Linked DNA regions of Homo sapiens: region 2 is linked to region 1. Evidence: fine-mapped expression QTL. A gene starts in region 1. The other region holds a variant in brackets. All regions are shown on one strand. Distances are between the middles of the regions.

Region 1 (5,377 bases):
TAAGGTAAAAAGCAAAAACATCCTCTTTTCTCCATCTTGTCTCACTTCCTGAAGATAGCCACTGTCGGCTGGGCGCAGTGGCTCATGCCTGTAATCCCAGCACTTTGGGAGGCCTAGGCAGGGGAATCATGAGGTCAGGAGATGGAGACCATCCTGGCCAACATGATGAAACCCCGTCTCTACTAAAAAAATAAAAATTAGCTGAGCCTGGTGGCATGTGCCTGTAATCCCAGCTACTCGGGAGGCTGAGGCAGGAGAATAGTTTGAACCCAGGAGGCAGAGGTTGCAGTAGGCCGAGATCGAGCCACTGCACTCCAGCCTGGTGACAGAGCGAGACTCTGTCTGAAAAAAAAAAAAAAAAACTACTGTCAACAGTTTGGGGACAAAAAGGCGTATGTGTGCCTGTATGCAGGTTTAAACAAATGTATATAAATTTCTTCTGAAGCTAGTTTTTTTTTTTCTTTTTTTTGAGATAGAGTCTCGCTCTGTTGCCCAGGCTGGAGTGCAGTGGCGCGATCTCGGCTCACTGCAACCTCCACCTCCCGGATTCAAGCAATTCTCTACCTCAGCCCCCTGAGTAGCTGGGATTCCAGGCGCCCGCCACCACGCTCAGCTAATTTTTGTATTTTTATTACAGGTGGGATTTCACCATCTTGGCCAGGCTGGTCTTGAACTCCTGACTTCGTGATCCACCTGCCTCGGCCTCCCAAAGTGCTGGGATTACAGGCATGAGCCACCTTGCCCAGCCATTTTTTTCATTTAATATACAGCATCTTGATTTTTCAGCCAATGTGCAAAATAGCTAGCAGACACACATTTTTTGCATTTCTTCCTTTCCCTATAATGAGATTGCCAAATTAAGATTTGCTGTCAAAGGAAGTAAAACAAAGAAACCTGTCAGCTTCATACTGCCTTCAATCTACAACTGGTGAGGACAAAAGGGTAAACATACACACATTAATATACATACGTAATAAATATATAAATTATCCTACATGGCTAAATGTTAACATAAGTAATACATGTACATTGAAATCAAGTTAATTTTCAAAGGCACGAAGCTAAGGAAGACATCTGCGTAGGTGGAGAGACTTAATAGGTTCTGATTAGGGAGGGACACCATGTGGAAATTTCCTGGGCTTTGGAGCCAGAAACATGAGGTCAAATTTAACTCTACCTCTTACTGATTATGTGGTTTGTGTAAGTTGCTTAACCCTTCTGAGCTTCCTTTTTGTCATGCACAGAACTAGGGGAAAGATTTATCTTACAGAGATTGAGATACTAAATGTTTACAATGGTGTCTTGAACATAATAAGTACCCAAAAAAATGCCTTAATACTGTTAATAGTCCAGACACTATATATGATGGAATTGGTGATCCAATACTCACACCACCAAATACCTGTGAACTCTGCTTTTTGTCTTTGTGTTTTATTTGCCTTCACGCTTTTATATTTATTTGTATAGAGATGGAAAGTGCCTTAGAAATAAACTGCTGTAAACATGAAGGACACACAACTACTTAGTAGCTTTAATGCATTATTGAAGTGATGTTCTCTCCTCCTGTTTCCCCAGAGCATCCTGCACTGGGCTCATTAACAATGTCCCATCCTTCCCCTAAGCAATCCTAAATTTTACTTACACCTCGTGATAAATACAAGCCATCTGACTATCACTAAACAGCTGACCATATCCTGCACCTCTGCTAGCAGCTTGACGTGTCAAAAGCCAAGCTTCCCAAAGAGGAGGATCCTATCCTTTTACTTAACAAGGCTAAAACAGATGCATACACTTTTAGCTGGCTAGTGCCCACATCTTGGGGAAAGGACCTACCAAGTACACATCTCCTTTTATTACATATTTTAGTCAACTGTATGTCCACCCACCCTTCACATTCATCTATACTTAAGAGGTTAGATTTCTAGAAAATCATGGACTTCTAGAAGGATTAGGGGAAATTTTGGCCACTATAATATCCAACCATCCTCTTTTCCATGTGAGAAAACTGGGGCTCAGGAAGATGTGACATGCCCAAGCACACACATCTATTTAAATACCAGTTGGGATTAGAACCCCAACTCTTTAAGTCTTTTGCACACTAATAAGCAAGGTATTATATGTTCCAGTAGTTCTGTGAGGTGCTTATTCAATCTTTTTGGGATGAAAAGAAACGTCCGTGGTTGCGAATGCATAAAGGTAATTAACCCACCTGTCTGTCCATGTGGGGATGGGATTAACGAGGGGGAAAGTTGCGTTTGTATTTTTCCACCATCTTACCTAAATTTGCAGGAAAATTGCTCTATGGGCAATAAATATGACCCAGAAAGACTAGCAACCCCCAGTAGTATCTCAAAAGGGCTCCAGAGACATGTTAGACCAAGTGGAAGTAAAGCACGAGGTGGGGGATGTCTGCTAGGATGGTGGCTGGCAGAGCAGAGGTATTTTTTTTTCCGTATTTATTAACCTGGGAGGGCAGACGTTGTCAATTTCCTCCTCCTGCCACACAAGTGGCCGCGTCCTTGTCACTGGGGCTGTGTGGAGGTTCTCACCTCCTCCTTTTTCCCAGGGATGTTTATGGCGAGGGCGCGGGTCGGCCCGGGCGGAGGAGGACCCGGGCATCGGCGCTCACCCTCCGTCCCCACCCGCGGCAGCAGCTGTGGGCGCCCGGCGAGGGCTCCCTGGGCAGCGCCTTTGTTTTCCCGACTCCAGTTACGTTTGCGGAAGTGCTGCCAGCACGGGGCGCGCTGGGGGCGCAGGCGGCAGCCTCCCCCAGCACCCCACAAAGATGACACCCGACACGGAAGCCGGGGGAGGGAGGGAGGGAGGGAGCGGCGGGCGAGCGAGGCCCGAGCGGAGACAGCGGCGCACGCTGGGCTCCGAGCCCCGGCCCCGAAGCCCCTTTCCCGGCAGCAGGTGTGCGCGGCTGAGGTGCCTACCCGCCCTCCGGCTGGGCCCGTGCGGGGCGGGGGAGGCCAGGGCGGGTCTGCGAGCCCCTTCTCCGCAAGCCGGGCCCGACTCACCTGCTGCGGCGGCGGCAGCGCTCAGCTGCGCGGGGCGCGGGGAGCCCTGTCCCCGGAGCACGGGGCGGCGGCTCGGGGCGCCGGGGCGGCGGCTGTCGGGGCAGCGCGCACCATCCCGGGCTGCTCGCGCGCTCCTCCGGGGCTGCGACGGGCTGGGCGGGGCGCGGCGAGGCGAGGCGAGGGATGCGGACCGGGTGGGGCCACGGAGGACGGAGGCGGAGGGCCCAGCGCTCCCGCCGGCGCGACCTTCTCTCCCGCTGCGGCTCCTCCTCCTCCCCGGCCCCGGCCTCACAGTCGCCGCCGCCGGTCACTACCGGCTGGACCCGTTTCAGGGCCGGGCGCTGAGGACCGGCCGCCAGGTGCAGCGCTCCGCCTCCTGCGGCGGCGGCGGATGCGTCGACTGCCCGCTCCCGGCCTCCAGCCCGCCCCGGCGGCCCGGAGGGACACCTGAACCCAGCCGGGCCCGGGGAGCACGCTGAGGAGGCGAAAGCACTGGGCGAGGCTCCATCCCTACCGCACCCTCCACCCCCCCGCACCCCCAAGCGACTTCCGCTGAGCCCCCAGGCAATGAGTGCGGGCCAGGAAATGTGGGGGAAAATGTACTAACATCCCTTATTCCTTGAGCGCCTTTTAAGTGGCACACACAATGCTAATGCTGTCAGTGCGTTATCTCCGCGTCTGTCCCAGGTTGACCCGGGAGGGAGGAGCCGGCGGGGTGCGGGAGACAAACGATCTGTGAGTTTCGGGGCTCACCAAGAAGGGGGAACACTGAGACGAAGGCACCCTTTTTCAGGAAGCTGCTACTGGCATCTTGCTGAAAAGCCAACCGTGTGTGTCGCACTAAGAATATAATTAAAGTTGTATTTCTAGTTAAACACGCAGAGAGTTGGGGGAGAGTGGAGTATTCACTTGGCAAGTATGTCTGTGTGCCTGTGATGGGCTTTGGGGGATGCCACATCCTGTTCTTAAGGAGTTTATTGTCTTGTTCTGGCAACAACGACAAGAGTGACAATGGTAGCTAACGGCAACAACGACAAGAGTGACAATGGTAGCTAACGCTTATAAACATCGATTATGTACGGGGCACTGTGTAGGTACTCTTTGAGCCTTATAACCCTATAGGTGTAGGAAACGTTATTCCCATTTTACAACTGAGGAAAGCCGAGGCTGAAAGTTAATGTGACCCATCCAAAGTTACTAAACAGCGAAAGGGAAAGCAGGCTTCTTTTGTCTCCAGGCTTTAAGCTCTTAACCGTGAAATCATACTGGTAAGAATTTGATAGGCCCTGAAGTTTCTGAATTTTGAGTCCCTCTTTAGGAAGAATAAAACAATTACAAATACGAAGTTTCTAGGGCCCCTTCCTGAGCTTATGAAGGGTCTCTGAAGCTTAAACTATAGTAGCCTCATGCTAAATCCACTTTCAATATTGACGTAGATATTCAATCATTTCTTTCTCCAGGCATTTCTTTCTCCTGTCAGGAACACGAGACACTGGTCCCCTCCTTGAAACTCTTCCCTTCTCTTCTTTTGGTGCTCCGTAAGTGTTGGATTTTCCTCCTTGAAACTCTCCCCTCCTCTGCCTTCTGTGACCCACAAGTCTTGGGTTTTCCTCTTCCTCTCTGGCCACTCCCCTTTGCTCCACTTGAGTTTTAGTTTTCCTTGGGTTTTGTTCTAGGCTTTCCTTTCTTCTGATTCTGTTTGTTTCTGCGAATTCTCTCACTCCTTGGCTTCAATCACAGAATATTTGAGGGTGCTCCAAAAGCCCTCTCTCGGGGTCAGCTTTTCTCCTGAGGGCCAGATCCTTATGGCCAGTTGTCCAGTGGGATGTGTCACAGGCACCCCAACCTCACTAAGTGCCACGTCAATGTTTCTTTACCTTCTGTTCTTCCCCTACTCGTTTTTTTTTTTTAAGATGGAGTCTCACTCTGTCGCCCAGGCCGGATTGCAGTGGCGTGATCTCAGCTCACTGCAACCTCTGCCTCCCGGGTTCAAGTGATTCTCCTACCTCAGCCTCCTGAATAGCTGGGATTACAGGCATGTGCCACCATGTCTGGCTAATTTTTGTATTTTTAGTAGAGATGGGGTCTCACCGTGTTGGCCAAGCTGGTCTCAAACTCCTGACCTCAAATGATCCCCCCACTTCAGCCTCCCAAAGTACTGGGATTACAGGTGTGAGCCACTGCACCCGGCCCCTCATTCACTCTTGCTTCTGGGTTCCCAGACTCTGGGGTCCCAAACAGCCATCCACCCAGTTGTACAAGGCCCTTCTTCTCAATGCTCCTTTCACCCTTATACCCATGCCCAGTGTATTAGTTACCTATTGCTGCTGTAACAAGTTATCGTAAACTTTGTGGAT
Region 2 (5,377 bases), 23 kb after region 1:
CTAAGTGCTGGGAACACAGCCATATATAAAACAGACAAGGTCTCTACTCTCATCAAGTTTATATTCCAGAGAATATATATAACTTGTAGCCCAAATGTTACTTTTTTCTAAATGAAATGTTGTATCAACTTTTATATCACTGTTTTCCCTAGTTATAAAAGTAATTCTTGCTTATTGCAAACAAACAACAACCATAATAGAGAAAATGAAGATACTTTTGTAGGCCCTCCCTTTGGCATAATTACTGTGAGTAGTTTGTTGTATATACTTAGATTTTTAAAAATATTTTTTAAATTTACAAACTGGATCACTCTTCTATAAATTGCTTTTTTCACTTAGCAACACAGTATACCATGTATATCTTTTCATCCCAATGCATCTAGATCTAACTCCTCTTTCTTATTGGCTGTATAATATAGCATTATATTTAGACATTTTATTTCAACCATTCTTCTATCGATGATCATCAAGGTTATTTCCTGTTTCTTCATTATGATTAGTGCTCAGTATTTTGCTTAAAAAATCTTTACCTAGCCCAAGACATTTGCAAATTCATATTGAGGGACTTAGAGACAGAGAAAGAGAACTCCTGCTTGCAGCTGCCTCACTGGCCTGGTGAGACAGAAATTGGAGTTTAGGGACTTTGAGCAGCCAACATCGAAGGGCTTCAGATCTCAGAGAAAAGGGGAATGTAGAGCAGGAGCTTGGTGCTCTGCCTGCAGTTTCACTGCCTACCTGTTATTCTTTCAAATCCTTTTTTGTGGGGGATGGGGTCGAGCAGGAAGAAGGCCTTGAATGCCAAGCTAAAGCCTAGGAGCTAGCAGAAAGTCACCAGAGTTATTAGGGAAACAAGGGCCTAAGAATCAGTTCTACAATGTTGGCATTGGAAGGGCCTCTTGTGACTATCTTACTAATGAAGAGACTGTAACACAGAGAGTTGTGCCCCACCTACAGCCATATATCATCCACGGCAGCAGAACCCCTAATGTAGGCTTCCTTAAACGACTGCCGATGCTCAAAGCCCTGCTGGCAGTGGGTGTGTGTGTCTTAGTATGTTTCTGCTGCTATAACAAAATACCTAACACCAGGTAATTTGCAAAAAAGAAAATTTATTTCTCACAGTTTTGGAAGCTGAGAATTTCAAGATCAAGGCACCAGTAGATTTGGTGTCTGGTGAGGGTGGTGCTCTGTTTCCAAGATGGTGCTTTGTTGCTGCATCCTCACATGGAGGAAGATAGAAGGGCAAAAAGGCAAAAAGGGCCTACCTGGTTTCCTTGAGCCCTTGACTTTTTTTTTTTGAGATGGAATCTCACTGTGTCACCTAGGCTGGAGTGCAGTGGTGAGATCGTGGCTCACTGCAACCTCTGCCTCCCGGGTTCAAGCGATTCTCCTACCTCAGCCTCCCGAATAGCTGGGATTACAGGTGCGTGCCACCACACCTGGCTAATTTTTGTATTTTAATAGAGACAGGGTCTCACCAGGTTGGCCAAGCTAGTCTCGAACTCCTGACCTCAAATGATCCACCCGCTTTGGCCTCCGAAAGTGCTGGGATTACAGGCATGAGCCACCGCACCTGGCTCCTTGACTCCTTTTCTGAGGGCACTAATCCCACTCATGAGGGCAGAGCTATCATAACTCCTTAAAACCTCTTAAAAACCCTGCCTCTTAATATTGTCACTTTGGGGTTTAAGTTCCAACATATGAATTTTGGAGGGACGCATACATTCAGACTGTAGCAGTGTACTAGCATGGGTCAGAGGCAAGAAGAGGTCTTGCCAAAGTGGTGATGTGGAAGTTGAAATGAAGAAAAAATGTTGAAAGTCAGGAAATGGGGAGAGAGCAGGGAGAAAGCCCCTACATGAGAACAGAACTTCAGAATTTTTCCTCAGGGAAGAATATAAAGGGGAGATCTATGATCAGAAAACCATAATACTGGAGTCTAACTGGGAGCCAGGGTGAGGGGGAGAGGGAAGATGATTACTTTGGGACCTGTTGTGTTCCATGGACTGGCAAGACATGGAGGTGGAAATGGCCAGTGGGCAGTTGGAAATGTGGGTTTGGAGTTGAAAAGAGAGATTAGGGCTTTTTCCTATTCCAATTTATGCCTTCCTTCCTTTCTTCCTTTTATAAATTTGGGGATCAAATATATAGTCATAGTTGAAGCTGCAGAAATAGATGGTATCTTTAGGTGAAAATGCATAAAGAATGTATATATTTTTAAGTATACATATTAGGCCTGGCATAGTGACTCACGCCTGTAATCCCAGCACTTTGGGTGGCTGAGGTAGGTGGATCACCTGAAGTAAGGGGTTCAACACCAGCCTGGCCAACATGGCGAAACACTATCTCTACTACAAAATATAAAAATTAGCCAGGCATGTTAATGTGTACCTGTAATCCCAGCTACTCAGGAGGCTGAGGCATGAGAATCGCTTGAACCCAGGAGGCAGAGGTTGCAGTGAGCCGAGGTCACGCCACTGCACTCCAGCCTGGGCAACAGAGCGAGACACTGTCTCAAAAAATAAAATAAAATAAAATAAAATAAAATAAAATAAAATAAAATAAAATAAAATAAAATAAAATAAAATAAAATAAAATAAAAGTATACATATTTGAATTTTACAGCTGGGAGTGGAAGCTCATGCCTGTAATCCCAGCACTTTGGGAGGCCGAAGCAGGCGGATTGCTTGAGCCAAGGAGTTCAAGACCCGCCTGGCCAACACGGCGAAACCTCATCTCTACAAAAAATATTTAAAAATTAGTGAGGTGTGGTGGCATGCACCTGTAGTCCCAGGTACTTGGGATGCTGAGGTGGGAGGATTGCTTGAGGCTACAATGATTACATCACTGTTCTCCAGCCTGGGTGACAGAGCAAGACACTGTCTCAAAAATAATTTTATACTTAAAAAATTTAATATAGGGTATCTGATTCATCATGAATACTAGATATCACGGCTGGAATCCCAGAAAAAAAGGTCATCTAGATTTTACTTAAATGTGTCTAATATCTGTAGGATTAACAGCAGTTAGAATGTGGCTCATTGTGTGGCTGGACAGCTCAAATCCTTCGAAAGCTTCTTGAAGTTCAAACTTCTATTGAGTTCACACTTCTCTAT[A/G]ATGTTTCTCACTGACTGTAAAATACAACTATTTAAACTTTTTTCTACTTTGCATCATAAAATCATACAAGTCAAGTAACACAGTGGCCTTCACTAATTACATACAATTGGCCAACTAATCTCATCAGCATATGATTAGTTCTAAAGAAAGCAATAGAGTATTAAAACAACCTGATTTACCTTTTTTACGTATTAGATTTTGAAAGACTGATATCATCTAGTGTTGGCAAGGATATAAGTAACGAGCATTCTCATCCTCTGTTGATGAGAGGTTGTTTTGTTTTGCTGCTATGTTGTCCAGGCTGGTAACTCCTGGGTTCAAGTGATCCTCTTGCCTCAGCCTCCCAAAGTGCTGAGATTACAAGCATGAGTCACCACACCCGACTGATGAAGGGTTAATTGGTGTACCTTTTCTAGAGGGCCCTTTGTCAATAGGTACCCACATTTAAAATGTACATATTTGATCTAGCAGTTTTACCTCTAAACATTTATCTTGGCCAGGCACAGTGGCTCATGCCTGTAATCCCAGCACTTTGGAAGGCCAAGGCAGGCATATCACCTGAGGTCAAGAGTTTCAGACCAGACTGGCCAACACAGTGAAACCTCGTCTCTACTAAAAATACAAAAATTAGCTGGGCATGGTGGCAGTCACCTGTAATTGCAGCTACTTGGGAGGCTGAGGCAGGAGAATCGCCTGAACCCTGGAGTCGGAGGTTGCAGTGAGCCAAGATTGTGCCACTGCACTCCAGCCTGGGCGACAGAGCAAGACTCCATCTCAAAAAACAAAAACACAAATAAAAACATTTATCTTAATGAAACAGAGAATTGTTCAAGTATGTACATTATCAAGCATGTTCATTGGCTCTTTATTTCTTGTAAACTTTTGAATTGATTTAATTATTCTTCTAGACACAAGTCCTTCATCAGATATGTATTACAAATATCTTCTGCCATTCTGTGGTTTGAATCTTTATTCTTTTACTCATAGAAGAAAAACAATTCTAGGAACATTGGCTAAAATGTTCTCAGTAGCTATGCTTGAATGTTGGATTTTTCTCCTCCTTTTTACTTCTCCATATTTTTCCAGTTTTTTAAGGATTATTTAATGACAATTTAAAACACAATAAAGGGAACGAATTGGTTAAGGAAGATGGTTTATTTAAAATGATGCAAGCTGGGCGCCGTGGCTCATGCCTGTAATCCCAGCACTTTGGGAGGCCAAAGTGGGTGGGTCACTTGAGATCAGGAGTTCGAGACCAGCCTTGCCAACATGGTGAAACCCCGTCTCTACTAAAAATACAAAAATTAACCGGATGTGGTGGTGGGCACCTGTAATTCCAGCTACACGGGAGGCTGAAGCAGGAGAGTCTCTTGAACCTGGGAGGTGGCAGTTGCAGTGAGCCAACAGAGATCACACCACTGCACTCTAGCGTGGGCAACAGACCAAGACTTTGTCTCAAAAAAAAAAAAAAAAGGGTCGGGCGTGGTGGCTTACACCTGTGTAGTCCCATCATTTTGGGAGGCCGAGGCAGGCAGATCACAAGGTCAAGAGATCGAGACCATCCTGGCCAACATGGTGAAACCTCTTCTCTACTAAAAATACACAAAAAATTAGCCGGGCATGGTGGCACGTGCCTGTAGTCCCAGCTACTCGGGAGGCTGAGGCAGAGAATCACTTGAACCTGGGAGGTGGCAGTTGCAGTGAGCCAACAGAGATCACACCACTGCACTCTAGCGGGGGCAACAGACCAAGACTTTGTCTCAAAAAAAAAAAAAAGGGTCGGGCGTGGTGGCTTACACCTGTGTAGTCCCATCATTTTGGGAGGCCGAGGCAGGCAGATCACAAGGTCAAGAGATCGAGACCATCCTGGCCAACATGGTGAAACCTCTTCTCTACTAAAAATACACAAAAAATTAGCCGGGCATGGTGGCACGTGCCTGTAGTCCCAGCTACTCGGGAGGCTGAGGCAGAGAATCACTTGAACCTGGGAGGTGGAGGTTGCAGTGAGCCCAGATCACACCACTGCACTCCAGCCTGGGTGACAGAGTGAGACTCTGTCTCAAAAAAAAAAAGAAGAAAAAAAAAATGCCGGGCGCGGTCTCACACCTATAATCCTTGCACTTTGGGAAGCCTACGTGGGTGGACTGCCTGAACTCAGGAGTTCCAGACCAGCCTGGTCAACTTGGTGAAACCCAATCTCTACTAAAAATACAAAAAATTAGCCGGGCGTGGTAGCTCTTGGCTATAGTCCTAGCTACTT

The links. PIP is the estimated chance that this variant, and not a neighbour inherited with it, causes the effect.
Region 2: its variant is fine-mapped to the expression of MFSD6 in whole blood (INTERVAL, PIP 0.99).

The regions. Positions count from the first base shown.
Region 1 is chr2:190,406,147-190,411,523 of GRCh38, reverse strand. MFSD6 (major facilitator superfamily domain containing 6) reads right to left here and starts at 3,169. Exons shown (of 8, transcript NM_017694.4): 1 at 3,021-3,169. RefSeq lists a silencer at 2,549-3,588 and an enhancer at 3,849-3,898.
Region 2 is chr2:190,383,292-190,388,668 of GRCh38, reverse strand. No RefSeq gene overlaps it. Among named protein-coding and RNA genes, the nearest start is that of MFSD6, 22 kb to the left of the region's middle. The variant A/G (reference allele first, on the strand shown) is at 3,117.